Linked DNA regions of Homo sapiens. The protein of the gene in region 2 interacts with the protein of the main gene of each other region in a pairwise test. Each region holds a gene or a part of one and is shown on either strand. Other genes may lie near its edges.

What was found.
Region 1: the proteins of SS18L2 (region 2) and LYPD6 interact in binary tests that used the Homo sapiens proteins (3 or more experiments, as listed by UniProt).
Region 3: the proteins of SS18L2 (region 2) and GNG3 interact in binary tests that used the Homo sapiens proteins (3 or more experiments, as listed by UniProt).

The regions. Positions count from the first base shown.
Region 1 is NC_000002.12:149,324,661-149,335,841, reverse strand, and holds the start of LYPD6 (ly6/PLAUR domain-containing protein 6 precursor), read right to left. Parts: upstream 5,256-11,181; 5' UTR 5,120-5,255; intron 4,622-5,119; exon of another isoform or gene 1-4,621.
Region 2 is NC_000003.12:42,591,581-42,599,338, reverse strand, and holds the end of SS18L2 (SS18-like protein 2), read right to left. Parts: coding exon 7,738-7,758; intron 4,918-7,737; coding exon 4,830-4,917; 3' UTR 2,405-4,829; downstream 1-2,404.
Region 3 is NC_000011.10:62,703,213-62,713,884, reverse strand, and holds GNG3 (guanine nucleotide-binding protein G(I)/G(S)/G(O) subunit gamma-3), read right to left. Parts: upstream 6,210-10,672; 5' UTR 5,970-6,209; intron 5,591-5,969; 5' UTR 5,590-5,590; coding exon 5,491-5,589; intron 5,208-5,490; coding exon 5,079-5,207; 3' UTR 4,684-5,078; downstream 1-4,683. Other genes in the region: BSCL2 (seipin), read left to right, coding at 6,690-6,776, 8,268-8,584. UniProt on the Homo sapiens protein: Guanine nucleotide-binding proteins (G proteins) are involved as a modulator or transducer in various transmembrane signaling systems.

The DNA.
Region 1 (11,181 bases), on a different chromosome or scaffold from region 2:
ATGTTACTGCACTAAATACTACAGGCAACTGTAACACAATAGTAAGTATGTGTGTATCTAAACATAGAAAAGGTACCATAAAAATACGGTATAAAAGAAAAAAGATACACCTATATAGGGCACGTACCATGAATGGAGCTTGCAGGACTGTAAGTTGCTCTGGGTGAGTGAGTGAGTGGCAAGTGAGTGAGTGGGAAGTAGAAGTGAAGGCTGAGGACGTTACTGTAGACTACTGTAGGTTTTATAAATACTACATTTAGGCTACCCTAAATTTACTTTAACATTTTTTCTTTCTTCAATGATAAATTAACCTTAGTTTACTGTAATTTTTTTATTTTACAAACTTTTATATGTTTTAACTTTTTGATTCCTTTGTAATAACACTTAGCTTAAAACACAAACACATGGTACAAACTTATTTTCTTCAAATCCTTATTCTGTAAGCTTTTTTTCTATTAAATGAAAACATGTTTTAAAATTTTTTGTTAAAAACTAAGACATAAGCACACACATTAGGCTGGGCCTATACGGGATTACGATCATCAATATCACTGTCTTCCACCACCACATCTTGTCCCACTGGAAGGTCTTCAGGGGCAATAACACGCATGGAGCTGACATCTCCTATGATAACAATGCTTTCTTCTGGAATACCTCCTGAAGGACCTGCCTGAGGCTGTTTACAGTTCACTTTAAAAAAAAAAATAAGTAGGAGTTCTCTCTAAGATAATGATAAATTGCATTAACAGTAAATACATAAATCAGTAACATAGGTGTTTAATATCATTCTCAAGTAGTATGTACTGTACATAATTGTACGTGCTATACTCTTCTAAGACTGGTAACACAGTAAGTGTGTTTACACAAGCATTACCACAGGTAAGTAATGTGTTGTGCCACGACATCACCACAGCTAAGATGTCACTAGGTGATAGGAATTTTTCAGCTCCACTATACTCGTATGGGACCACCATCATATAAGCAGTGCATTCTTGACCCAAACATTGTTATGAGGTGCATGACTGTATTTTCCTTTTTTAACTCTAATACGTCAATCCCCCTTCTTCAGAAAAAAAAAAAAAAAATCGTTACTTGCTGTAATCTGTGTTTACTTTGAATATCCATCTCCCAATCATCCACAGGGACACGGGTCTGGTTTCTTGGCCCCCAGTCCTTCTGGAAACCCCTCCCCTGACTGGAGCCCCCAAGGACACCAGTCAATCCCCCAGCAATACCCCAGATTGCTGTCACGTACACACCAGGCTTCTTCAATATACTTAGGTGAAGGCCATCTAGTCTTGGTGATTTATCTGTAATTAGTCTGCTGATTAGGTCTGGAATATCCTCAGCACTTGCCACTTCTTGATCTATTACCTCCAATGTGTGTATTGCTTGAGAAAGCCTGGGTGTAGGAATATTACTCAGCAAAAACAGAAGCAAAGAATTCATTTACACGCTGTTTTATCTCTTTTTATCTCCCAGTACATGTTTGGTATGATGAAAGATGAGTAGTTCCACAATCCTTATTTCACAGTATTTAAGGGACTTTCATTATCGTTTTGGAAATCCATTGCAAGGATTTTTTTTTAACAAATTCACTTTTGGTTATCCCATTTCTAGTATGCCTGGGATCTGTTGCCCTTCATAAGGTCAATTTAATAAACTGACCCTTCAAATTTTCCTTTTTCATTACATGTATCCAGGTAAGCTTTCTTTTTCTTTTCTTTACTTTCCCTATGTGTTTTCACTATGAGTTTAGTGTTTTACAGAGCTTGGGTACAAGACTTGTTTTTCTTATCACTTTTGGGTTTCTATAAGGTAATTCGTATGCTTCCCACTTTCTTATGGGTAAATTAAGTATTTCTTTTCATTTCTTCCCTAACATATCAGCATTGAATTCCCTTTTAGAGACTGATTATACTCTTGATGTCCTTCTTTGGAGTCCCCTCTTCCATTAGAAGACTTAATTGAATTGAAACACATATCATTCATCATTACATGCTGCAATCTGTGTTACATCTGGTAGGCACTCTGAACAGTTCCTGAAAGAATGTATGATACCAACAGCTAACAATAACGGGGCATTTGGTAGGTGTAAGGTCCCATCCCAAGCATTTTAAATGCATTGTGTCATTAGATTTCAGGCACCAGACGGTAAACTTCATTAGCAAGGAGTTTGCACATGTATCCCTAGCATCTAGAGCAGAGCTGGTACCTAATAGGCAATTGCTGAATATTTGCTGCATGAATAAATTTTAAAAACTGCATGAGGTAGGTGCATTATTCATGCTTTACACATAAGAAAACTAAAGCACAGAGAAGTTCTATCATTTTTTGAAGTCCCACAGTTAGTGTATGTGAAGACAAGACTTGAATCCAAAGCCCACATACTTAACCAAGACTTACTAGTAGTAAGCTCAACACTTAACCACGTTATTGCAAATGAGATTAATCTCATTAATAAATAGTATGCAATGACACAAGTAAATATTGTAAGCAATCATTTTCCAAGAAAAGATTTGCAGATGATGAGCCCTTAAAAAATAATCAGATAGGCAGATATCTGTACGCTTCTTATTGCTAGCTTTGCAAGTAAAAATATGATTTCTCTCTAACCAATGTCTTCTGCTACATTTGTACACTAGTCAATGAGGATTTCAGGACTTTTGATAAGTGGGTGCTTTTTGTGTTTCCAGAGTAGTTCTGATTTTATTTAAGTCATCTATTTTGTCAATTCTTTTTAAAATAAGAATAGCACTAATGAGATATTCATTTATTATTTCTATTGTTAATCGTCTACAGAGCTTATAAGGAGTGTGTTTATAAAATAGGAGACTTACATATTTCTCACACATCTCTCCTACTGTTACTTGTCTTTCTGAAACATTACAATTAGGACATCATCCTTTAGGGGTTTGATTATATGTACCTTTAACAACTCATTAGCAAAAATAACGTATCTCTTTGAAAAGGGTAGCTCTTTAAAACTATTCCTAGTTTTCACCTTAATTCTTTATCAGCCCTCACCTTAGTGGGAGCTAAATGATATTGAGCAGACAGCAAAGCCTTTTGGGGATGATTCACAATGGTCCCTCAAGCTATGGGTTAAACAGTAAAAAGAGGTGCAGAAATCAGAAGTAGGTAAACAACAAAGAAGTAGGTAAACACCAAAAAGGAAGGAAGGAAGGGAACGGGTGAGGTAGGAAAGAATTTGAAAAACACTTGACTGAACTCTGCTATTGATCTTGGAAAAGTCAATCTTTGAAAGCCTCAGTTGTTTCATCTGTGAAATGGGGATGATAAAGATATGATTTCCTCAGACACTTTAATAGTAGATTTCAATATGCCATATAAACTATCCAGTATGATACAACACATGGTATGGTTTTTTACTTGATATTATTTGCCTAGAATCAGCCCGATTTATGCATTATGTACTATAAACATTCACCTTACAAAGACTGTCAACAGCTTGAGAGTGTAGCTTCATCAATTGTCTGTCTTAATTGGTCTGGAAGCATTTCCATTATTTCTAACTCAAGGAACCATTTCACAATTTTTAACAAGCTTTGTGTGCCTACAAGCTCAGAAAGCTTACTGTGTGCTCTCAGGACTAGAGTTCTATAAACCTCTATTTAAACAAGGAAGCCTCTTTTAAGTCTTATTTCAGTCTGGTGCCTTTGGTCGAGGTGGAAACTAAAATTGAAAACAGATAGATGTTTTACATTTAAATGGGTTTAACATAAATGTGCATTAACCCATTTCATGGGCGATTGCACAAATACCTTTTGCAAACTTGGTACACGTGAGCGCATATACAGTAACCATTAATGTCTTCTAGAGAAATAAGGTGCAGATCCAAAATTTTAAACAGCTAGCTCGAGTTCCTCTCACTCGAAAGAAAATGTAATGGCTTTAAGGGAATTGCTCTAATAATATCATGGCATCTGCAATGGCTGGCCAGAGCAGAGCAGAACAGTGTGTATGTCACCGCAAGTCAATTTAACAAGAAATAAGCTTCCCCCTGGAGAATCTAAACTCCCTTGCCTCCCACAAAGAAAATTGAATTTTGGAGGTCACACCTTGGGTAGGTTACCATAGAAAGAAGCTTAACATTCTTTTTGTCATATGCTCTGGGAGGTCAATGCTGTTCTTCCAACAAGTGACTACCAAAGACCCTCTTCCATTCCCCCCCACCCAATTCTCTCCCCCGATCCCATTATAACAAGTCTTTGGAGTCCTCTAGGAAACGGGATGTGATTGTGACACTTGAAAATGCCAAGGACCACACCGAAGGCAATCATGCTCAAACACCAAGTTTTGAGCCCCGCAGTGAGGAGCAGGGCAGATACTGGGGCGGGAGAGGGGACTGGAGGAGGGCAGCGGTAGAGATAGTGAGGATATGGTGGGGGTCAGAGCGAGTCAGACCGTCAGATAGTGAGCTTTAGGTTGTAACTGAACGCTTAGCCAAATGTGAATCAACGGAACTGCTGTTACCGGAGAGAAAAACAGGTCGCCAAGTCAAGCCCAGGCCAAATCCCAACTCTGTGGGTGGATGGTCCCTTCCCTGGGTTGTCGGGGTGGATGGCTGAAAGGCCTAGCGTGGTCTTGCAGCGGCGGGGAGGTACCTCCAGCACACTGCACCTCCCTTAGAGGCTCCGGGTGGCCGCAGCCGGGCTACCGCCACTGCCCCCCGCCCCGCAGCAACATGTGGGGTGCTGCCAGTCCGCCGCCCAGGAACTCCCTCCGGCTGGAGTTCCTGGTGGACGCATGTTGGGCCGTGAGAAGATGCTGAATTACTCCTGGGAAAGGTTCCTCCAGCCTTGAACTTGGCAGCTCCTGACCTTTCCATCCCACCCTCCACGCGCCAGCCCAACACACACGAGTACACACGCCCCTCTGGACCCGTCCAGGCTACTCGCGGGGCTCTCTGCCCACTAGGGGCAAAACGCCGGAGGCCGGGACCCCAGTTCCTCTGGCCCCAGGGGACTGCCCTAGCATCGGGTAGTTCCAGGGACTCAGCGCACTCCCTGCCTTGGCCAGGCCCCGCCTAAGCCGGGGCCGCTGGCACCAATCCCCTGTTCTTTTGTGCTCTCCCGGGAAGCCCGCCTCTACTCACCCGGGCTGCGCGCGGATTCCGGCCGCCAGCTGCAGCCCGCTGCCCCATCCCACGAACACTGCGGCGCCCCCAGAGTGTGCAATGCGGCGCCCCGCCAGCCCGCTGCCGGAGCCCGGGAGCTCAGGGAAGGAGCGAGGGAGCGCAGCGGGGAGAGGCGGGGGGCGGCTAGGGGCGCGCGCGCCACTCCCACTCGCGCCGGGCACTGGCCGCCGCCCGCAGCCGCGGCCGGCCCGGCCTCGAGGGCCGCGGGACCAATCAGCGCGCGCGGGGGGAGCGGAGCCCTCCGCGGGGCGCGCTCATTGGCCCGGCGCGCGCGGCCCAACTCCGGGAGAATCGGCCTGAGCGCCAAGTCTGCAAACTCCGGCCAGCGGGAGCCGACCGCCCGGCGCAGGTGGGGCACCCGGGCGCCGCGCTCCCGCCCGCAGGGTGAGCGGAACTGGAGAGATTTGGGACCTTCCCGGGAAGCCTGTTCCCAGTGAGCGTTGGAAGCGAGCAGTGTTTGCTCAGGGTGCACCGATACCTTCCTGTGCGCGACCCCCTGGCGCCTCTCCCTAGCCGCCAGCCTCAGCCGGGCCAGCAGCTGCGTGCGTGGCTGCAGGCCCGGCAGTGTGAAATGACCCTGGCCAAATCTCACTCCCCGCCATCCCCTGGGCCCCGCGAAATCCGCCGGACCGCAGAGCTCAAGAGCAAGTGAAGCTCCGAACCCAGGGAAGGCGGAGACCACTTGACGTTTGCAGTAAAAGACCTAAGCTGCGGGGCGGAGCATGGAGGCGGTGGGAAGAGCCAGGAAGGCAGGTCTTAGGAAGTGGGAATCCGGTTATGGGTTTGGTGCAAAAAAGTCCAGGGCATAATACTGCCACCCTCTGCCCAACCCTTCCTCCAGTTAAAGCCCCTGCAGCCCTCTTGGGACGTATTGGTTTTTCTCTTCCTTGTTGTAAATCGTGTTTGACCCCCCTGGACGGTTCGATCTAGAGCCTTAGAGTGGAAGTGGGTCATAGTCCTACTCTCCCCTGAGCAGCGCGGGGGGCCGGCGGGGAGCCGGGGTGACCGGGGAAGGTCCCCAGGAAGGTCTGGAAGGACTCCACGGATATGCCCGGAAACTCGGAACCAGCCTCCCCACCTCCCCCCGAACTTGGCCTGCAAGGCTACCTTCGTAAGGGCGGCCCGCCATGTGGCTATTTGTCGATCTTTGAGACCCCTCCACCTTCTCCTTGGATTTTCTACCCCTGGAGCATTTTTTCAGGCCTCTCCTGAATCACCCTGCCTTCCCAATAATCTATCCATCCCAACATAAAAACATTCTTACTCTTTTTTAAATTAAACTTCCTTCCCCAGTCCCTCTATTTGGAAGGGCCTAGGATAACCTATTTTTGATCGACAGCTGCTAGACCTCAGAAAGTTTTTCTCTTAGTGTATGTGCACAGGCTTGCCCAAGCTCAGGGTTCAAGTAGGCAAAAAATAATTAGCGCCCCCTCAAGGTGGAGATCGCTGCCGCGCTGTCTTCCTGCAGGGCTCAGCAGGGTGAATGAATTGAATATGAATTAATCAACCTGAACTTGGAAATGTCTCTCCGTGTCTAGGCAGGTTACCTCTGCGGGTTAGCATCTACTAATGAGGGCATGTCCCGGGTGTCACTGCTGACACTCATTTAGTTTCCAGTTGGCAGTTCCGGTCCATGTACTTATTCACTTTATTTAAAAAAAATCGGTGCATAGTTTAGTGAAAATATTCATATTTGGGTTCAAAGTGAAGTTCAACGTATTAATGCAGTTTATGAGAGCCGAGTTCCTGGTAGAGATGGAACCCTTAGGATCTCTTTTCAGAAATATATTTTCAAAGAAGGCTGGAAAGATATGCATATGAAATGTCTGCAGTGGTTATCTCTGCGTGTTGGGATAATGGATGGTTTTCTTGTTCTTTATACTTTACGGTATTTTCTAAAGAACATTAATATTAATTTAAAAATTTTTTTAAAATGTTGACTACCAACATACAACACTCCTCAGGCATCAGAAGAGCGAAAATGTTAAATCTTCCTTCTGCTTTTCCCTTCACATCTTGTCAATCGCCCAGTCCTGTGTTTCTGTCTCCTAGGATGACTTCTAGATCCATCCCTCCCAGCATCTCTATTTCACTGCCAGACCTCATCATGCCTTACCAGCGCTTCAGCAACAGGCTTTCACTGCTCTGCTCTCCAGTCGACCACACGCTGCCCTCTCTATTTCAGAATCACTAATGTAATCATGTCACTTTCAAGCTTAAAATTCTTCAGTTCCAACCCCACTGTGAGGAAGTTCAAATGGAGCCTGGTTGGCAAGGCGTTTCCTTCCCAGTCCGTTCCCAGCTTTCCACGTTGGTCTCATCTTCTGTCCTCACAGTTCCGCAGGCAGGATGGTTCTGCTCCACCTACAACTGCCTGTCCGTGGACCTTCACACACCCATGTCTAAGATTTCATAGTGCTAGAATGCTGTGCTTCTCTTCCTTCTCAACTCTCTCCTGCCCCAACAGCAAGTTCCTATCTTTGCTTCAAGATTCACTTCGAATACCACCTTTTTAAAAATCAAGTCTTCGAAACTGCCCGGGGCAGAATTAAGCAACGCCTTCTTTCTGTACATCAGAAGCAAGCTTTTTTTTTTTTTTTTTTTTTTTTTTTTGACGGAGTCTCACTCTGCTGCCCAGGCTGGAGCAAAGTGACGCGATGAAGAAAACATACATTGTATTTACACTCCTGGAGTGCACGAAGAGAGAGACGCACTTTATTTATTTATTTATTTTAAGCCCTCTCCTTCTCACCCCTGCCCAACATGGCTGAGTGCCATCCTCTGTTTCACCCCTGCTGAGTCTGCCAGCTCACATTTACCATAGGTGGTCTCACCCTGCACCTTCCCAACCTGCCCAGCTCTCACTACAGATCTGTTTATTGATTATTTTTTGTTGTTATTGTTTCATGTTTTTGTTTTTGAGACAGTCTCACTCTGTCACCCAGGCTGGAGTGCAGTGGCACAATCTTGGCTCACTGCAACCTCTGCCTTCCAGGTTCCAGTGATTCTCATGTCTCAGCCTCCTGAGTTGTTGATGCCCAGCTAATTTTTTTATTTTTAGTAGAGATGGGGTTTCACCATTTTGGCCAGGCTGGTCTTGAACTCCTGACCTCAGGTAATCTGCCCATCCTGGCCTCCCAAAGTGCTAGGATTACAGGCATGAGCCACCATGCCCAGCCTTGTTTATTGATTATTTTAAAAGCAGCCCTTTCTGATTTTTTAAATTAATGTATATTTTTATTTCAATAGCTCTGGAAGTACGAGTGGTTTTTGGCATGGGTGAATTGTATAGTGGTGAAGTCAGATTGTAGTGCACCCATCACCTGAGTAGGAGAGAAAGACTTTAGATCAAATAGTCACATGAACAATTTCATACTGAGATAGGCATGATGACACTACCACATGTAAAAAAAAGAAACCTGGTTCATTTTGAATATATGTCAATCACAGTTCTTACCACATTGTGTTATCCATTGATCTATTTATTGCAAGTTCTTTGTCCCATCATATGAATCCATATGCCCCCACGTAGAACACAGTGCCTGGTTTATAGTGGGTGCTCAGTAAATATTCTAAAATGAATGGGTAAATAAATGAATGGGTATTTGAAACCCCATGAGGCATTTTATTTCATGTGTCTACATGCAACTATTATCCAAAATCGAAAAGACATTAGTTCCGTGTTTTAAAAATTATTAGATCCTTGTCTCATCTTTCTTAACTTTAATTTGTTTTTTCTGCACAAATTGTCTAATGTCTTATTTAATTTCACATTTAGGAGATATAGGTAATTATTATTTACATACATGTAGATAATCTGCTATTGCTAGGAGGAAATCTTTTTTTAGAAATTTTACTTTTAATATATAAAAATTGAAGGTTGAAAATGCAAAGCCAAAAAGCACAATACATAACAAAAAGTAAATCAATTGGGCTTTCTAAAAGTTAAAACATTTTCTCTGCAAACAACACGGTTACGAGAATGAAAAGACAAGAATAGACAGGGAGACAATAGTTGCAAATCATACACCTGACACAGGAATTGTAGTTAATACATACAAAGAACTCTCAAAACTCAGCAATAAGAAAACAACCAAATTTTTTTCAATGGCCAAAAGATTTGAACAAACACTTTACCAAAGAAGATATATGGGTGACAAATAGCACATGAAATGATACTCATATCATTAGTCTTTAGTGAAATGCTAATTAAAACTGCAATGATAACTTCTAGACACTTATTAGAATGGCAAAAAAAAAAAACCTGACAATACCAAGTGTTGATGAGGCTGCAGAGCAACTGAAACTCTCATACCACACTGGTGAGGGTGCAAAATGGTATGTCCGCACTAAAAATAGTTTGGCCACTTTTATAAAGTTCAATATACACCTAACCATATAGCCCAATAATCCTACTCCTACATACAGACATACATTGTTTTATTTCACTTCACTTCATTGCATTTCAAAGATACTGCATTTTTTTTTTTTACAAATTGAAGGTTTGAAGTAACTCTGCATTGAACAAATCTATCAGTGCCATTTTCCCAAAAACATGTGCTCACTTTGTGTCTCTGTGTCACATTTTAGTAATTCTCACAATATTTCAAGCTTTTTCATTATTATTATATTCATTATGGTGACCTGTGATCAGTGATCTTTGTTGTTACTATTGTAATTGTTTTGGGGGGCCATGGACCGTGTCCAGATAAGACAGCAAACTTAATTGATAAATGTGTGTGTTCTGACTGTTACACCAACAAGCCATTCTCCATCTCTCTTTCCTCCAGCCTCCCCATTCCCTGAGGTGCAACAGTATTGAAAATAGACCATTAATAACCCTACAAGTCCCTCTAAGTGAAAGTTGTATGTTTCCCACTTTAAATCAAAAGCTAAAAATGATTAAGCTTAGTGAAGAAGGTGAAGGTGTCAAAAGCTGAAATAGGCCAAAGCTAGGCCTCTTGTACCAGTTAGCCAGAGTGTAAATGTAAAGGAAAAGTCCTTGAAGGAAATTAAAAATGCTACTCCAGTGAATATAAGAATAAGAAAGCAAAACAGTCTTGTTGCTGATATGGAGAAAGTTTCAGTGGTTCAGATTAAAGATAGCTAAAACATTCCCCCGAGCAGAAGCCTAATCCAGAGCAAGACCCTAACTCTCTTCACTTCTATGAAGGCCGAGAGAGGTGAAGAAGCTGCAGGAGAAAAAAAAATTGGAAGCTAATAGAGGTTGGTTTATGAAGTTGAAGGAAAGAAGCCATGCCCCTAACATGAAAGCATAAGGTGAAACAGCAAGTGCTGATGGAGAAGCTGCGGCAAGTTATCCAGAATATCTAGCTAAGATCATTGATGAAAGTGGCTACACTAAACAATGGATTTTCAATATAGACAAAGCAGCCTTCCATGGGAAGAAGATGCCATCTAGTAATTTCATAGCTAGAGAGAAGTCAATGCCTGACTTTAAAGCTTCACAAAACAGGCCGACTCTCTTGTTAGGGGCTGACGCAGCTAGTGAAGCTACCCCACTTACCATTCCAAAAATCCTAGGGCCCTTCAGAATTATACTAAATCTACTCTGTATATGCTGTTTAAATAGAACAACAAAGTCTATATGACAGCACATCTGTTTACAGAATAGTTTGCTGAATATTGTAAGCCCACTGTTGAGACCTACTGCTTAGAAAAAAAAAAGATTTATTTCAAAAATACTACTACTTATTGACAATTCATCTAGTCATCTCAGAGCTCTGATGAAAATGTACAAGGAGATTCATGTGTTTCCTTGCCTGATAACACAACATCAATTCTGCAGCTCATAGAGCAGGGAGTCATTGTTGGGGTGATAAGACCTAACACCAGGTCTTGAGGGCAATGAAGTCCAGCAGAGTCAAAGGAATGAGAAAAAGTATGAGAGAGAAAGTAAGACCAGGGGGCCATCGCAAGTGTGGAGGCTGCAAAGGCCCTCGAGCTCTGGGAGCCCACGCTATTTATTGATGCTCAAACAGGTGGTGAGGATGTGGGGG
Region 2 (7,758 bases):
GTTCCAATGATCTGTGTCTGAGTACCACACTATTTTATAAGTTTTTTTTTTAAACTATAAAATACACATTACATGGGCGGGCGTGGTGGCTCATGCCTGTAATCCCAGCACTTTGGGAGGCCGAGGCAGGCGGATCACGAGGTCAGGAGATCGAGACCATCCTGGCTAACACGGTGAAACCCTTTCTCTACTAAAAATACAAAAAATTAGCCGGGCGTGGTGGCGGTCGCCCGTAGTCCCAGCTACTCGGGAGGCTGAGGCAGAAGAATGGCGTGAACCTGGGAGGCAGAGCTTGCAGTGAGCCGAGATCGGTCCACTGCATTCCAGCCTGGGTGACAGAGCGAGACTCCGTCTCAAACAAAAAAAATCTATCTATAGATCTATAGATCTACAGATATCTAGATATCTATAGATCTATAGATATATATACACATTATGTGAAAGTTGCCATTTTAACCATTTTTAAGTGTACAGTTCGCTGGCATTAACTGTATTTCACACGGTTGTACAACCCTCAGTACCTCCCATCCGTCCACAGAACATTTTCCATCTTGCAAAACTGAAACTCTGTATTATTAAACAGTAACTCCCCATTTCCCTCTTTTCCCAAGTTCCTGGCAGCCACCCTTCTACTTTCTCTCTGTAAATTTGTCTACTCTAGTATTTGTCTACTCATATGTGAGTAAAATCATGTAATATTTGTTCTTGTAGGCTAGGTGCGGTGGCTCACACCTGTAATCCCTGCACTCTGGGAGGCTGAGGCGGGTGGATCACATGAGGTCAGGAGTTCGAGACCAGCCTGGCCAACATGATGAAACGCCGTCTCTACTAAAAATACAAAAAATTAGCAGGGCGTGGTGGCAGGCACCTGTAATCCCAGCTACTCAGGAGGCTGACGCAGGAGAATCACTTGAACCCGGGAGGCAGAGATTGCAGTGAGCCGAGATTGCGCCACTGCACTCCAGCCTGGGTGACAGTGCGAGACTCTGTCTCAAAAAAAAAAAAAAAAAAATTTGTTCTTTTGTAGCTGGGTGATTTCACTCAGCATGTCTTCCATTTCATCCATGTTGTAGCATGTCAGAATTTCCTTTTTTGAGGCTGAATAATATTCCATTGTATGTGTATATCATATTTTGTCTATCCATTCATATGTCAGTGGATATTTAGATTGCTTCTACCTTTTGGCTGTTGTAAATAGTACTGTTATGAATGTGGGTGTACAAATACCTCTTTGAAACCTGCTTTCAATTATTTTGGATATATGCCCAGAAATGGAATCACTGGATCATAAGCTAATTCCATTTAAGATTTTTCCAGGAATTACCATACTGTTTTCCATAGCTGCACTATTTTACATTTCCATCAGCAGTGCACAAAGTTTCCAATTTTTCCACATCATCACCAACACTTGTTATTTTTTGGTTTTCTTTATTGCCATCCTAATGGATGTGAAGTGGCACACTGTTTTAATTAATGTAGTTTTATAGTAAATTTGGAAATTGGGCTCACTTAGATTGGGTGTCCAATCTTTTGGTTTACCTGGGCCACATTGGAAGAATAATTGTCTTCAGCCATACATAAAATACACTAACACTAACAATAGCCAATGAGCTTAAAATTGCAACAAAATCTCATATTTCTTGAAAGTTTATGAGTTTGTGTTGGGCTGCACCCAAAGTTGTCCTGGGCCACATGTGGCCCCTGGGTGGCGGGTTGGACAAGCTTGACTTAGATCATTTCTGACCTGTTTCTGCACCTATGTCACCTTTTTTTTTTTTTTTTTGAGACAAAGTCTCGCTCCGTCGCCCAGGTTGGAGTGCAGTGGCACGATCTTGGCTCACTGCAACCTCTGCCTCCTGAGATCAAGCGATTCCCCTGCCTCAGCCTCCAGTGTAGCTGAGACTACAGGCACACGCCACCACACCTGGCTAATTTTTTTGTATTTTTAGTAGAGACAGGGTTTCACCATGTTGGTCAGGCTGGTCTCGATCTCCTGACCTTGTGATCTGCCCGCGTTGGCCTCCCAAAGTGCTGGGATTACAGGCATGAGTCACTGCACCCAGCCGTCCATGTCACCTTTTTAAAGTACAGTCAAACCTTTGGTACTTCCACACCATCACAGAAGTGCTGTCCTTTGTTAGAGCTTGCCCATTCTACCTCCCTGAGAGTCCAGTGTGTCTATTAGAGGAGCAGTCTGTAGGCTGAATTGAGAAGCTAGCGGTCTTGGGTCTGATTTTGCTGACAATTACAGACTTGAACAGTATGAAATGTACATGCCTTTCTGGAGATGAAATAGTTTGATAAAGCTAACTTTCATACATGGATTCATGAAAGGAAAGGATGGAGACCATTACCCAGCTTTGTAATTACCGTGTTTAGGACATCAGGCTTCAATGTAAATAGGTTTTAGAGCTCAGGAATGAAATATTTAATTTGGGATATACTTAAACAACTTTAAACCTAGAATTCATTCTTATCTTGACATTCCAGCAATTCTCTTCTTTCTGCCACTGGTTATGTGACCTGAGACAAATCACTTTGATCTCTCTGAAGTTTACTTTCTTCATCTGTAAAATAAATGAGATAAAATATCTCCTTTCTAAGGTTCTGCCTCTCTCAAAGATTATTTTATTCTGTCTTGTGATTTGAAATTATATTTTAGATGATTCGAAGATAAAAGTATGCAATTTGGTCTGTGATTAAGGTGAAGAAACTCCTGGGACAAGGCAGGCCTAGGGCTAGTATCAACCAAAATGACTGACACCTCCTCCATCTCTTCCAAGAGTGGTAGAAAGTTGGTATCCAAAGAGTTTACAAACTCAGGCTTAATTTGTCCATGATTTATCATGAAGAAGAACCACTGGTAGTACGAATTTTCAGGTAATGATTCTGGGGTTCAGCCTTTTAGAGTGTGATTATGCCAGCAATTAGAACTTCAGGGGATAGGACTCTGGAAAACCATCAGGAATGCTAGTGGGGAAACAGACAAAATAATTTTCTAGAAAACAGAAATGATCGGCTGGGCGCGGTGGCTTACGCCTGTAATCCCAGCACTCTAGGAGGCTGAGGCAGGTGGATCACCTGAGGTCGTGAGTACGAGACCAGCCTGACCAACATGGAGAAACCCCGTCTCTACTAAAAATACCAAAATTAGCCAGGCATGGTGCCACATGCCTGTAATCCCAGCTACTTGGGAGGCTGAGGCAGGAGAATCACTTGAACCCAGGAGGTAGAGGTTGCAGTGAGCCAAAATTGCACCACTGCACTCCGACAGAGCGAGATTCCGTCTCAAAAAAAAACAAAAACAAAAACAAAACAAAACAAAACCAAAAAAAAGAAGAAAAAGAAAAAAGAAAGAGCCAGAGCCCTCAGCACATTAGTGCTAACATAGATTAACATGTGCCCAGTTCTCAACCACGTTATCTCAGTCTCACAACCTCAGGAGGCAGATGCTATTTTCATTATCCTCACTTTAGAGGTGAGGAAACAGAGCTTTCAGAGGTTAAGGGATAGAGCTGGGATTCAAAATGAGTTATCTCTTCACTATTTACATGTATTTTACAGTTGCCCTAGGTTGCAACCCTTGACTCCAAAAAAAGGAGCAGGGACCTGGGCTTCTAATTTTGGATATACTTACAAGAATCCCTTTGCCTCATCTTTCAGATAAATCTCCAAGAGTGAAAGTTTTTTATAGAATACAGCTAATAAAGTCAGAAAGAATGATAAATTAGAAAATCCTCATTATGTAATCCCTAATGAATTACCACATCAAAGCTGGGTGGATCATAATTTAAGTGAAAGGCTGGTTGGGAACTTAAAAGTCAGGTCACTCCTTATGTGATGCAAAAGCAAGTACTTATCACCTTCTAATATATTCCTGCTAAAAATATTAGAACATGAGTCTGCATGAGCCTCTAGATCTACTAGTTTACAGGAAAAGTGGATGATAGTGGCACATAATTAACAACACTACAGAGATACAACTGTATGTAGAACACGAGAGAATTCTAGGGTAAACACCTAGTTATTTCAACAAATAAAGAAAAAAAGGAACTATTAAGTATTCTTTAAGTGACTTAAAGGAACATCAACAAAATACAACATGTGAATCTTATTTGGATTCTGGTTCAGACAAATCAACAAAAAGACTATCTGATAACTGAAGAAAATTAAACATCATCTATTATCAGATGATATTAGATAATAATTAGAAATCACTATTCATTTTGTTGGCAATGATAATAGTATTGTTTTTATATACTTTATGGTTAAGTCCTCACAGTTATTCTTGAAAACCAAATGGAATACTTATTACATGAAAACTTCTATACCTCCACATCAGTATTTTATAGAAAAATAAGCTTTATTTCAAAGCAATCTGAAAACAGCAGTCAGGGGGACCACATTTACAAACTGATAGGAAGGAGCACACAGTTACATGTCCATTTAGCAAGGTATCAAGTCAGGAATCTCACCAATTCCTGCCCAACACCTACTGAGTTTCCTCTTCAGGTTGAAACTAAAAAGTAGACTTGAACATCCCAGTGATGTCTTTGTTATCCAAACATGCTCCAAGTTCAGGAAAGAGGACACCTGGGCTCAACTTATTGAGGGATTTGCTTAATTATTTAAAAAATATTTACATGAGAATACAGCTAAGTTAGTAGCTTTCTTCACATTTTCACGTTTCGAAAGAGCCACAGAGGTTTCATTCATGTTTTAACCAGTTGAGTTGGTAAAGACCCTGTCTCCATTTTGTAAGAGATGGATTACATTCAATTACTCCTCACGACAGCCAAATGGAAGATTATTCTATTGCTTTTGAAAGATTATTCCATTGCTTTTGAAGTGCTGGTTGGACTGGCATCTGCAATGGTAGCCAAATAAATGAGATTTCTATGTAACACATGCTGGTACCTATGGGCAAAAAAACAGGCAAAAATCAGAGGCTTGTTTTTACCGACCATGAACAAAAAACTGGAAAATAATTTACCCACTCTAGTGGAATGGCTCATCCACTGACTGGATGATTCAGTGTTATCAACCTTCTTGTTTAACATATTTAAGGAAAATATAGTCAGATTCTCACCCATTCTTACTGATTACTTTCATAGCTACTATCATTTCTTGCTTGAACTATTGCAGTAGACACCTAGTCTCCCAGATCTATCTTTGCGCACCTACTTTATTCTCCACATAACAGCCTGAGAGATTACTGTACAATTTAAATCAAAATCATGTTATATGTCTATTCAAAACCTTCCAAAGGCTCCCATCTCATTCAGGTAAAGGTGAGCTGTTCTTGTGTCCTAATAAGGCCCTACATGATGGGGGCCTCCAGTCCCCCTCTGATCTCACCTCTTATGGCTATACCTTTGTTCACTGAATACTGGCCACAGTGGCCTCCTTCTGTGACTTGAAGATATCCGGCACACTCCTACTAGGGGGCTTTTCCACCTGATGCTTTCTCTGTCTTACTTATCTCACTATGCCTTACTACTGCATAGCTGGCTCCCTTACCCCAGGTCTCTACTCAAATATCACCTTATCAGACATACCATGTATAAAATAGCACTCCTCCCCCCACTTACTCTGCTTTATTCTTATTCAAAGCACTTATTATTATGTGCCTAATTATACATTTCCTTATAGATTCTAGAGTCTAGAATGTCAGCTCTGTGAGTGCAGAGCTGGTATCTGTTTTACTATGGATTTCCCAGAGTCTGAAACAGTGCCTGGTACCAGGAGTACAATTGTCCCTTGGTATCCACAGAGGATTGGTTCCAGGACACCTCCCTCCTCCCCTTAGATATCAAAATCTGAGGATGCTCGAGCTCAAGTCCCTTATAAAAAATGGCATAGTATTTGTATATAACCTACACACAGCCTTCCATATCATATACTTTAATTTATTTATTTATTGAGACGGAGTCTTGCTCTGTCACCCAGGCTAGAGTGCAGTGGCGTGATCTTGGCTCACTGCAACCTCCACCTCCTGGGTTCAAGCAATTCTCCTGCCTCGGCCTCCCAAGTAGCTGGGATTACAGGCACACACCACGCCTGGCTAATTTTTGTATTTTTAGTTTTTAGTAGAGATGGGGTTTTGCCATGTTGGCCAGGCTGGTATTGAACTCCTGACCTCAGATGATCTGCCCGCCTCAGCCTCCCACTGTAATGCCACAGTACTGGGATTACAGGGATGAGCCACCACACCTGGCTCACAGTTTAAATAATCTCTAGATTACTTATAATAACTAATACAACTTAAATGCCATATAAATAGTTGTTATACTGTATTTTTTTTATTGTTGTGTTGCTATTTTTCATTGTTTTGTGCTCCCCAATATTTTTGAAATGCAATGCAGAACCCATGGATACAGAGGACCAACTGTACTTATAAAATATCTGTTCAACAACTTCAAGAAGGGACAAAACATTTTCATGATCAACATAAGTTTACGGTGGGGGGGGTAGAGTTCTTCACCCAAAAAAATAAATCAGACAAGGGCTCAGAAAGCATGGCCTGTGCAATTGAAAAACCCCACTAGGAGATTTTGATAACTTTCTTACCCTTGGGTTGAGAATTACTGTACCAAATGGAATGTTTTGCAACCATTTTTCATATAGAAAAAGGAGAAGGTATTTACCATAAACTTTTAAAAATCAAATTACCAAATGCCAGAGTCAGATGTAAAGATTTACCCAAAAACTGATATCTCTACTATTCTATTAAGGTATTCAGTGAGGGACTGTAGGTAATTTTTCTAGGGGGTAGGGATTGTGAAACATTTCTTCAGTAACAATGAAATAATATATTTTTCTATAAGAAATGGGCATAAGGTCGGCCGTGGTGGCTCATGCCTGTAATTCCAACACTTTGGGAGGTCGAGGTGGGTGGATCATCTGAGGTCAGGAGTTTGAGACCAGTCTGGCCAACATGGTGAAACCCTGTCTCTACTACAAATATAAAAATTAGCAGGGCGTGGTGGCACACGCCTGTAGTCCCAGCTACTCAGAGGCTGAGGCACGAGAATTGCTTGAACCTCAGAGGTGGAGGTTGCAGTGAGCCGAGATTGCACCACTGCACTCCAGCCTGGGTGACAGAGGGAGACTGTCTCAAAAAGAAAAAAAAAAAGAAAAGAAAAAAATGGGCGTAATACCTGGACTAGATTCGGAAAAGAGACTCAGACTCTATTTTCTCTCATTTTGGTATCTACTTAGGGAGTGCATTAAATTATTATGCACAATTTACCTTTGACTTAACTTGTAAATCCTTTGTTTGTCTTTGTGTGTGTGTCACTAACAGACTGACGGGAAGTTAGAAATGAGAGGAAGCTTAGCAGTCAAATGGCCTGACCCCTTCACTTAACAGAGAAAGGATGAGGCAGGGATCCAAGATGAGAAAGGGGCCATGGCTCTAATCTCCTGAGCTTAGTTTTCTGTGTGCTCTCACCCCCATCCCTGTTGTCATCAGCCGGCATAGCTTTGAGTGAAGGAGGCTTTGCAGTGAGAATAATTCACATTTTGAAGAAAGAGCCACGTCTGACTCCAGGCTCCGCAGTGTACTCGTTGTATGGTCTTGGGCAGGTTGGCAAACTCTTTGAGCCTCTCTTTCCTCAGTTCAAAGAGGGGCTTAACTGCGATCAATCACCCAAGACTCTTAGTTCGAGAAAGCACCGCATCACACAGGCTTCCCCTCTACCCACAGGTCAGGGGCGCGGGGGTGGGGGTACTTACTGCACGCACTCGTTCCCGCGG
Region 3 (10,672 bases), on a different chromosome or scaffold from region 2:
GGGATATGGAATGCTCTTTCAATGTCTAGCTTCAGTTTTCATTCATCCTCCTGCTCAGCACTGTCAGCCAAGAGCTTACTCAGCAGACACCACATACTGCAGCAGTTCCTAGTGAGAAAATCTGTGCCACTAGAAAATGCTTCACTTCCATTTCCTCACCTGGGCAGTTCTCTGTTTAAAATTGTGGGCTGATTTGGTCTTCCTCTCCTCCTCCCACTGTTACTGCCCTGCAGCCCTTGTTCAGGTGTACAGACCCTTATTCTGGCCTCTAGTGTCCTTGTCTGTCATGACACACCCTTCCGCCCAAATACCTCTGACCCCAAGGCTGGAATGGGGCTGGTAGGAGATAAGTTTGCTTACTCATAGTCATGTCCTTTCTCTTGGCACCTGCTTCCCTGCGGTGTCCTCAAATGGATTTCTGTGTGGCAGTGGAGTGATTGCATGAATTTTTCTGTAACACATTAACTTTGTATTATTATTAAGGGAGTTTGAGAAAGCTTTGCTTATAATGTCAAGGCAAGGAGGTAAAAACTGGAGCCCAAAGAAATTCCCTTAGGGCAAGATTATGTTATAATAGAAAATTGAATTTCCTGAGGCAGTGGCTGCCACCCCTTTTCAGATGTTTAGTCCTGCAAATAGCATCTTTCTTGTAGTCTGTGACATGGATGGGGATGCTAGGGCCCTTAGGGGCAAGGGGACTAAACTAAATCAAGTTGAGTTTTTTTCCAGCAGGGGTTAGGGGAGGTACTCGCTGTTGATATTTGACACTAGAAAGTAATCTTTTTTACAAAACTGTTTTTCTAGGTGGGTGGAAAGTGAAACTGCCACATCCTTGTTGGTTTAGTCCAAGAGATCATTTGCAACAACAGTAGATGTCCGGGTTTTGTTTCTGTCTTTTTATTATGAAAAACTATGTTAAGGGGGAAAATGTGGATTATGGTAACCAGAGGAATCCCTAGCCTTGTTTTCCTTAGAAGACTTGTTTAGTGTTTTATCAGACGTCTGTTGTAGTTGTAGACAGGAAAGCTTGTGAGAAAAACACCACATGGAGCCTGTAAATGTTTTTGCACAACCTGTAAAGCATTCTTGGAAGTGGCCAGTAAAAAGGGGTTTTACCATTTAAAAAAAAAATGTAACTGTGTCATTGTTTACATCTGTAACTTTTTCCTCCCCTGTTCTCATTACACCATTCTGGCGAAAATGTAGGCAAAGTAGCTTCCAGTTTTAGAATAAATAACCATTTGGATTGAATTCACCCTATCTCCTGTGGCTGCACTGACTGGGGCGGAGGGTGTCACTGGGTTATTTATTCATTTTTTAATGCCTCTTTCTCAGGTCGCATGGGCTCCAACCAAGGAGGACTCTCCTCTTGCATGGTGGCTGCCGTTCCCTCCCTATTCTACCATGCCTTCACTTGGGAGCCAGCCATGCAGTCAGTTGACATGGGTGGGTAGTTATTAGTCTATTTAGTGCTTGCTTAGGCCAAGAGTCGAGCCATTGAAGTATAGGAAAATAAATTATAACTCACGACCTCTGTATTTGGCCTATGCAAAAACTAGTTGGATGCTTGAAGTTAAATGTACATTGTGGAGCCAAATAAGTATATTCATGAATAATTACTGCTAGGGGGAAAGCCCACTCATTCAACAGAAGTTTGATGGGGGTTATTTTCCAGTGAATCTGGAGAACGAGACGGTAAATTAAATTTACAACAGCGCCATTGCTTTTTTATTTTTTATTTTTATTTTTATTTTTTTTTTTTGACAGAGCCTCGCTCTGTTACCCAGGCTGGAGTGCAGTGGCACGCTCTCGGCTCACTGCAACTTCCGCCTCCTGGGTTCGAGCGATTTTTCTGCTTCAGCCTCCCGAGTAGCTGGGACTACACATGTGTGCCACCAGGCCCAGCTAATTTTTTTTTTTTTTTTTTCCTAGTAGAGACAGGGTTTCACCATATTGGCCAGGCTGGTCTTGAACTCCTGACCTCGTGATCTGCCTGCCTCAGCCTCCCAAAGTGCTGGGATTACAGGTGTGAGCCTCCGCTCCCAGCCACCATTGCATTATTAGCACTGAAATGATCCTAACGGCAGTTTCTAATAAATGGTCAGGGTCTTAAAGCTGAGATACCACAGGCTCATGACATCCAGTGTTCTGAAGGAGTAGTAGTATTGATGTAGATACTGCTCTAATTCCTACCCTCTGTATGTGACACGGATTCAGATACCCGGGTTTACAGTTTTGTACCCTGAAGGCCACCCTTAATTTTGGTAGCCATCTATTCTTTAGGACATTTAAGTTGCTGTTAGAGCTAATTAATCATTTTTTAAAGTGGTTAATCATAGCTCATGCCTGGTCTCTAGTTACTGCTTAAACCCCATTTTCCCACCTAGCGCTGTAGCCACGCAGTTATAATCTGATGGGTAGGAACATTGAGTGTGCAGAAAAATTGAAGAGAGGCGCTTTGTTTTGTTTCGTTTTGTTTTGAGACGGAGTTTCGCTCTTGTTGCCCAGGCTGGAGTGCAGTGGCACAATCTCGGCTCACCGCAACCTCTGCCTCCCGGGTTCAAGTGATTCTCCTACCTCAGCCTCCCAAGTAGCTGGGATTACAGGTACCCGCCACCACACCGGCTAATTTTTGTATTTTTAGTAGAGACAGTTTTCACCGGGTTGGCCAGGCTGGTCTCGAACTCCTGACCTCAGATGATCCGCCCGCCTCGGCCTCCCAAAGTGCTGGGATTACAGGCATGAGCCACCACGCCCGGCCGGCCAAAAAGAGGCTTTCTTAAAAATCAAGGTTACATTTATTAAACACTCTAATTTTTTTTTTTTTTATTTAACCATGTCTGAGCTGTTGTGGAAAATTTCACTTACTCCCCTGGAACTTGCCCAACACCGTGATACAGTGGGGGTGAGGGAGGCAAGGTGCTTGGTCCCTGCCATGCCACATTTGCCATTTAAGCATGTACAGTACAATCTATTCATTGGGTATTTGGGTGCCTGATATGTGCCATTATCAGGATACAGGGATTAAAACGGACCTGACCTGATTGATCCTTCCTGGAATTTTCACCGTGCCAAGAAGGAACTGAGGCTCCTCCGCAACAGAATGGGGGTAGGGTCCCACTCCAGGAGGGCAAACTTCTCCCGTTTCTTCATCTCTAGGATGAGGGAATTAATTAGAAGATCTCCAGGACTTCTTAGAGCTCAGAAGTTCCATCAACAGTAAAAAGTTGCTTGGGACACCTTAAGGTGACCCAAGTTCACTGGGTGTCCCTGGAATTCATGAAGATATCCTTAGGAGGCTAAGTTCAGTTGCTGGTGATAACAACCTTTCTTCCTTTGGTTTCCTTTATCCACTTTGCTGTCTTCTGTGCAAAGATACCTGGAAGCTGGAGGTAATGAGCTGTCCCTACTATTTCAAAGCAGCCTCCCTTCCCGAAGTATATCCAGGCACAAAACAGGAGCCAGCCTAGGCTTTTCCTGGGGAGGATGCGTCCCTGAGTTTAGGGGACCTCTAGCAGGAGCACACGTACTGGGATTGTTACGTTCTTTGTCTTGTCCCTGGTCCCATCTCGCCTCTGTGCACCCTTGGAAGGAAAAGATTCTAGGAGGCATTCTGGTGTTCGTAAACCTCCGCCATGTTTGAGTCCTGGAGATGACCATGACATGTTAAGCCTTAAGTTTGGTCCCTGCCCAGACAGCATGCTGGACTTTTGCAAGGCACATTAGGGGTGCGGCCACTGCTTTCTGGCTGCTGTGGCTGAATCGGCCTGAGGGGAAAATGAAAGCAAAAACAAGCCCCAGTTCTACTAGGAAACCCAAACTGAGCAACTTCAGGCTTATCCAGCTCCTGGGAAGACCAGGAAGCAACTGAGGAGCGGTGCACCGAGACGGACAGGGTCGGGGGTTAACCCCCTGCCGCTAATATTTCCGCTCCAAAGGGAGCCTCTCCTTTCTTGGCAAAATGTAGAAACCTAGATTCCCTCGCAAGATCCACGCGACCAGCGTCGGCCACGCTGTACTTCCTGGGGTCCCCTTGTTTAGTGATTCTTCGTTATGGCCGCCCGTGTGCCTTCGACTCAATCGGGAGGACACCGAAATCCAGATTTCGGGGTTGCAGGGCGCGGGCCCCGGCTTGGTTAGGGCAGGGGCAGCCATTTTGAGACCAGAAGAGGGCGGAAGGGACCATATTGAGAACGCCGGTTGCCTGGGGGCCGCCATTTTAAGAGAAGCCCTGTACGGTAAACTCCGTGACGTGGGGGCTGCCATGTTGGTACGGCCATCTTGGAATGGGAGTGGCTGTGGGCGCAGCCATCTTAGGTATAAAATCGGCTCCAGTCGCGGTAACTGAAGCCAAGCTCCGCCCCTACCCTCCTAAGAGTTCCTCTGCTGTACGACTGCACTCCCGCACCCTCCCCTAAATCCCCCCTCTTCGGCCTGTTTACCTTTTAACTTGGCTTCGTTGCACGTTTGTGTGTGTGTGTTTGCTCTTCGCAGCCTCTTGAGCGTCTTTTGTACTTAATTCTTACACTGTGGACGCTCTCTCGCGCCCGCCATCCCCCGACCCCTCTGATCTCCGATCCTTGACGATGTCTAGCCTGCATTGATTGGCCCTTTTCCCTGGGTATGGCAGATCTATTGCTTGATGATCCTCTCCCCCCAAGAATTCTAACACAGGAGCTGTCCTGAGGCTCTGGATGACTTTATTCTTCAAATGGCTTTACCCTCCCAGTAGCTCCAGGTGAGACTGAGAGCAAGAACCTGGCCCATCCCTCTCCATTGTCTGAGCAGGTCACCGAGGGAAGCGGGCAGGACGCGCTGGCAGAGTCTGACGGGGCCCTGCTGTGGGTGGAGCAAAGGGTGCCTCATATCTCTGGGGTGCTTGGGGTCGGCCACAAAGGTGGTAGGAAATGGGGTCGACAGATAGGTGAGGGTGGGCCTTGTGCTTCAGATAACCTCACATGGTCAGGCAAGGGTTAGGGATGGGATGCAAGGAGCCTAAGGGGCTCACAACAATTACTGACCTAAGGAAGGGCCCAGGAGAGGGAAAAGGGAGGAGTTGTGAGAAGGGACAGGGGAGCTCAGAGGAGAGCACAGAAGAACTTCTTCTCCCGGAAGGGGTTCTCCGAAGTGGGCACAGGGGTGATGAGGGGATCCTCACAGGCGTGGGCATCACAGTAAGTCATCAGGTCTGCTGCTGCCTTGGACACCTGGGACACAGCCAGGAAGGGTATTGTTAGCCAGGACCTCTGAAGGGGACTGCAGCCTCCCTCCCCAAATGGGTTCTCTTTTGCCATCTCCAGGGCTCCTTACGACTTGTCTTCTCCCTCATCCCCCCCAGAGGCCTGGGGACAGCTCTCTCTACAGAGCCCCAGACTCCTCCCCTGACCTCAGGGAGTGAAGGAAAGAACGCATCTCTTATCTTGAGCTTTGGGAACCTGCAGCACAGCACAGCCTGGCCAACTAATGGGAGCCAGCCAGGGTCCCACCTACCTTTATCCGACACAAGCTGGCTTCAATCTTAAGCTGTTCCACCATCTTGCGTGCTTGCCCAATACTCATAGTGCTGTTCACCGGGGTCTCACCTTTCATCCTGGAAAAAAGAGGGACCTCTCAGAGCACAGTCTCAGCTGGAGGCCCCCCTCCATGCTCACTCCACACCAACCTTTACAAGGCTGTGGTCATACCCCAATATTTTGTTCCCCTCCTATCCTCCTCCTCCTCCTCCAGTGGACTGTCTCATCCCTGTATTCCTCATGGAAAAAAATAGGGTGGGATGAGGTGCTCCCCAAACTCCCTCATGGCCTGGGCCACAGATCATTAAACCTTACACAAATGATTTAAGGCTTTTCAGCCCTTCAAACCATGTGTGTTCCCAGCTCTGAAGACCTCAACCAACCCTGATGAGGAGGGCACATCACCCCTGTCTGCTCCAGTGAGCCCCAACAGGAGAAAAACAGGCCATTACTTACCTGAAGCCACAAGCGGCAGTAGCAGCCCTGGGTGTAGGGTCAGTGGAGGGTACCAAAACCTTCTGCCTGAAATGGGTGCCCCACCCAGTAGGGAGTTGCAGCTGAAAGTATCTGATGCAGAAGCAGTGACTATACGAAAGGAGGCCCCTGGGGAGGGCCAGGCCAGAGGTCTGGTCTCAGTTTCTGCAGCTCAAGCACTGTCTGGATGGCTGGTACCTGAAGGATGAAGGATGCTAGAAGGAGCTGCTCAGATCCTGGAGCATACCAACTGCCTGGCCAGTGGGGGAGCCTAGCTGCCTGCATCCCTGCGCACACCCCCACTGTCGCTAGTTCACTGCCTGCCCCTCCCCCATTGCAGGCATCCTGACTCTGGGCTAGAGACCTCCCCAACAGAGCTGAGGCCAAGGCCGACTCCCCCTCTCAAATGGCGTGGTCTGGGCCTATGACGGCCCCTGCAGTGGAGTCTGTACTGGCTGCGGGGGACCCTGCTCATTTGAAAATCTGACATCAGCTGGGCAGTCGCCCCCCTCCTCCTTTCCTCCCTCTACTCTGACACAGCACTTAGCACCTGAATCTTCGTTTCTCTCCCAGGGACCCTCCATTTTCCATATCCAGGAAAATGTGATGCGCCACAGGTATCAGCGTCTGGATCGCCACTTCACGTTTTAGCCACAAGTGACTCAGTGGAAGATCCAGAGTCAACAGAGGCTCGTCAGGAAGATGTCTACAGAAAAGGTAGACCAAAAGGAGGAAGCTGGGGAAAAAGAGGTGTGCGGAGACCAGATCAAAGGACCGGACAAAGAGGAGGTAGGGGCCCTTGTGGGGACAGTCAGCAGAAATATACTGGAAATAGGTGGGCTGGCGTGAAGGGGGCGGGGGGATGGATTGGTTTTAAGAATTTCATTCATTTTGAATAGATTACTTCCCACGCCCGCAGCAGTGTGCAAAGATGTACACAACACTGGCCTTGCCTCTGAAGGACTTTATCTGGGGTGATTAGACGTCTACAAAATAGAAGACTGCCAAAAGCTAGTCTAGATAATGTGCTGTGGGGACTCTGAGGGAGAGTGTATCCAGTTAGGGTCAGAGGAGGTCCACAATGCTACCACGCTGGGAACAGGGCACTAATCTGCCTGCGCAACAACGCAAGAGGCCCAGGTTGCCGCAAACTGCAACATGCTCTAGGCGAATGCCCCCGCCTTAGATGCCTACAGGTCCTAGGAGCTGTGGGCGATAAAAATCAGCGCCAGCTGGATGACCGCCTCACTCGGCCGCTTCGCGGGTGAAATGGCCTGTGGTGAAGGTGTGCACGGAGGGCTGTGATTGCAGTCTCAAGGGAGAGCCGAGCGGAGGCTGCAGTCAGCGCATCCCCTGGGGCACATCTTGGGGCCTGCAGGGAGGCAGGCGTCTTTCCCCTTTGGTCACGGTAACCGGAGGGAAACCTGCCGCAGAGAGAGCCAGTGGCGAGCGCAAGGAGACAGCGACCTCGCAGCTCGGGAAGGCTCCGCCCCGTCCCGCCCCGCCCCGCCGTGCTGGACCCCGCCCTGGGCTGAAGCCCCGCCTCCCACGGCTACAAAAGCGGCCGGCGGAGAGGGGCGGGACTTCCCCGGGAGCCGGAAGTCCCGTCTCACGGTTGCCCTGGCAGCGCGCGAGGCTGGTGAGTCGGCAGCCCTGTGGCAGCCGGCGGGCTGGTTTCCATGGTTGCACGATTAGGTAGGGGCTCCGGGCGCTTTGCCCACCCCCGAGCTGGAGGGGACTGGCGGGAAGCGGCGGTTGGCTGCAGGGCGCTCCGCCGGGCGTGGGGTGTAGCCGTGTCGGTGAGCGAGCTCTGCTCGAGGCGGAGAGGAGAAACTCGGGAAGCAATTGTGGCTACTCTAAGGCTACTGGTTTCGAGTCAGGCCGTGCGACCTTAGGCAAGTCGCACATTCTCTCCGTGCAGCTGCCTAGCAGTGTGGATTCAGTATCACCGTGTGTGTAAAGCTCTTTCTAAGAATCGTAAGGTGCTTATTCTTTGTTATATAGCTGTGAATGAGAATCAAGGTGGTTTGTCCCAGCATCAAATGACTGGAGAAGGAATTCCACTGAGGAGATTTAGCACTGGGCGGGAGGGAACACAGTGGAGGAAAGGGAAGGGGTAATTGGCAGAGTGGCACAATCATTTGGAGAAAGGCCATATATATGAAACAATGACTTTGCTATCCTGCTATCTCTCGTTCCTCAAAGCCAGTCCAGTAAGCTGTTTTGTCCCCACCTCCCTGGGGAAAGGAGTCACTCTTTTCCCTCACCCTCTCTTTCCAGGAACCACCAGCTGCTGCATCCCATGGCCAGGGGTGGCGTCCAGGTGGCAGAGCAGCTAGGAACGCAAGGCCTGAACCTGGGGCCAGACACCCTGCTCTCCCGGCCATGGTCAACGACCCTCCAGTACCTGCCTTACTGTGGGCCCAGGAGGTGGGCCAAGTCTTGGCAGGCCGTGCCCGCAGGCTGCTGCTGCAGTTTGGGGTGCTCTTCTGCACCATCCTCCTTTTGCTCTGGGTGTCTGTCTTCCTCTATGGCTCCTTCTACTATTCCTATATGCCGACAGTCAGCCACCTCAGCCCTGTGCATTTCTACTACAGGTGAGAGGGGCCTTCTATCAAAATAGAGGACTCCTATGGGAATTGTAAGGCCCTTGGAGTTCATTCAGTTCAATCCCCTCATTTACAGATAAGGAAAACTGGAGCCAGGTGTGCTTCCAGGGCCTCTCAACTTTCACAGCCCAAGGCTAGATTTGGGTTGCCAGGGCTAGGGTTCTAGTTCTACCTCTGATTACTGAATTCTGGTTAAAAAAAAAAAAAAAAAAAGGAAAAATATCCACTTCTATCATTATGAGGATCAATTCTATTTTGGTTGGATCACCCCTCTCTCAGGGCCAATGTAGAATTTTGAGCCAACTCAACCCTTTAGTGCAGAACCAACCTGGCTTTCAGTAGAGGAGCTATTAGGAAAGCAGCAGTTTGCTTTTTACATTACTGCCTCTCAGTCCCTGAAAGTCGGCTACACAATAGAGATTATGGAAACATAAGATGAGTAGGCGCATAAACTTGCTTCCCAGAGAGTCTTGCGTCTTGACTGGCCCCTTAGGTTCCTTCTCATTTTACAAACCCTGCCAAGTGCCAAATTCTCTCTTTTTTGAGGTGGAGTCTCTCTCTGTTGCCCAGGCTGGAGTGCAGTGGTGCAGTGTCTGCTCACTGCAACCTCCCAGGTTCAAGCAATTCTCGTGCCTCAGCCTCCCAAGTAGCTGGGATTACAGGTGTGTGCCACCACATCTGGCTAATTTTTGTATTTTTAGTAGAGATGGGTTTTTTTTTGTTTTGTTATTGTTTTTGTTTTTGAGATGGAGTCTTGCTCTGTCGCCCAGGCTGGAGTGCAGTGGTGCCATGTCGGCTCACTGCAAGCTCCGCCTCCTGGGCTCACGCCATTCTCCTGCCTCAGCCTCCTGAGTAGCTGGTACTACAGGCACCTGCCACCATACCCAGCTAATTTTTTTTTTTTTTTTTTTTTTTTTTTAGTAGAGATGGGGTTTCACCTTGTTAGCCAGGATGGTCTCAATCTCCTGACCTTGTGATCCACCTGCCTTGGCCTCCCAAAGTGCTGGGGAGATGGGGTTTCACCATGTTGGCTAGGCTGGTCTTGAACTCCTGAATGCAGGTGATCCATCCGCCTTGGCCTCCCAAAGTGCTGGGATTACAGACGTGAGCCACTGTGCCCCACCAAGGTCTCTTCTTCTTCTTCTTTTTTTTTTTTTTCTTTTTGAGACAGAGTCTCGTGCTGTTGCCTGGGCTGGAGTGCAGTGGCGCAATCTCAGCTCACTGCAACCTCTGCCTCCAGATTCAAGCCATTCTCCTGCCTTGCCTCAGCCTCCCAAGTAACTGGGATTACAGGTGCCTGCCACCACACCTGGCTAATTTTTTTTTGTATTTTTAGTAGAGATGGGGTTTCACTATGTTGGCCAGGCTGATCTCGAACTCCTGACCTCGTGATCCACCCCCTTGGCCTCCCAAAGTGCTGGGATTACAAGCATGAGCCACTGCGCCCGGCCTAGTTCTCTTTTCTTAACAGTGGTTGTAGGACCTATCAACAGATGCAGAGAAGGGCGTTATAATCAATGGTTTAAAGTCATTTTTTCCCTTAAGTCCCTGGTCCAGAGCTATAGTTTCTAAAGCAGAGCTTCTTAAACTTTTAGGAAATGGATCTTATGGCCCTTCCTGCCATAAAAACATATATACGGCCGGGCGCGGTGGCTCACACCTGTAATCCCAGCACTTTGGGAGGCCGAGGCAGGCGGATCACAAGGTCAGGAGATTGAGACTATCCTGGCTAACACCGTGAAACCCTGTCTCTACTAAAAATAAAAAAATTAGCCGGGCGTGGTGGCAGGCGCCTGTTGTCCCAGCTACTTGAGAGGCTGAGGCAGGAGAAATGGCGTGAACCTGGGAAGCGGAGCTTGCAGTGAGCCGAGATCGTGCCACTGCACTCCAGCCTGGGCGACAGAGCAAGACTCCGTCTCAAAAAAAAAAAAAAAAAAAAAACGTATATGCATGCCCAGGCATATGCTGCACCCACACCCCCACATGCAAATTTGCCTACAATTGGAGGGGTTCATGAGCTTCTTAATAACCATCTGTAGATCCTTTTGGAGGCGTTTTCTCAAACTAGGACCCAGA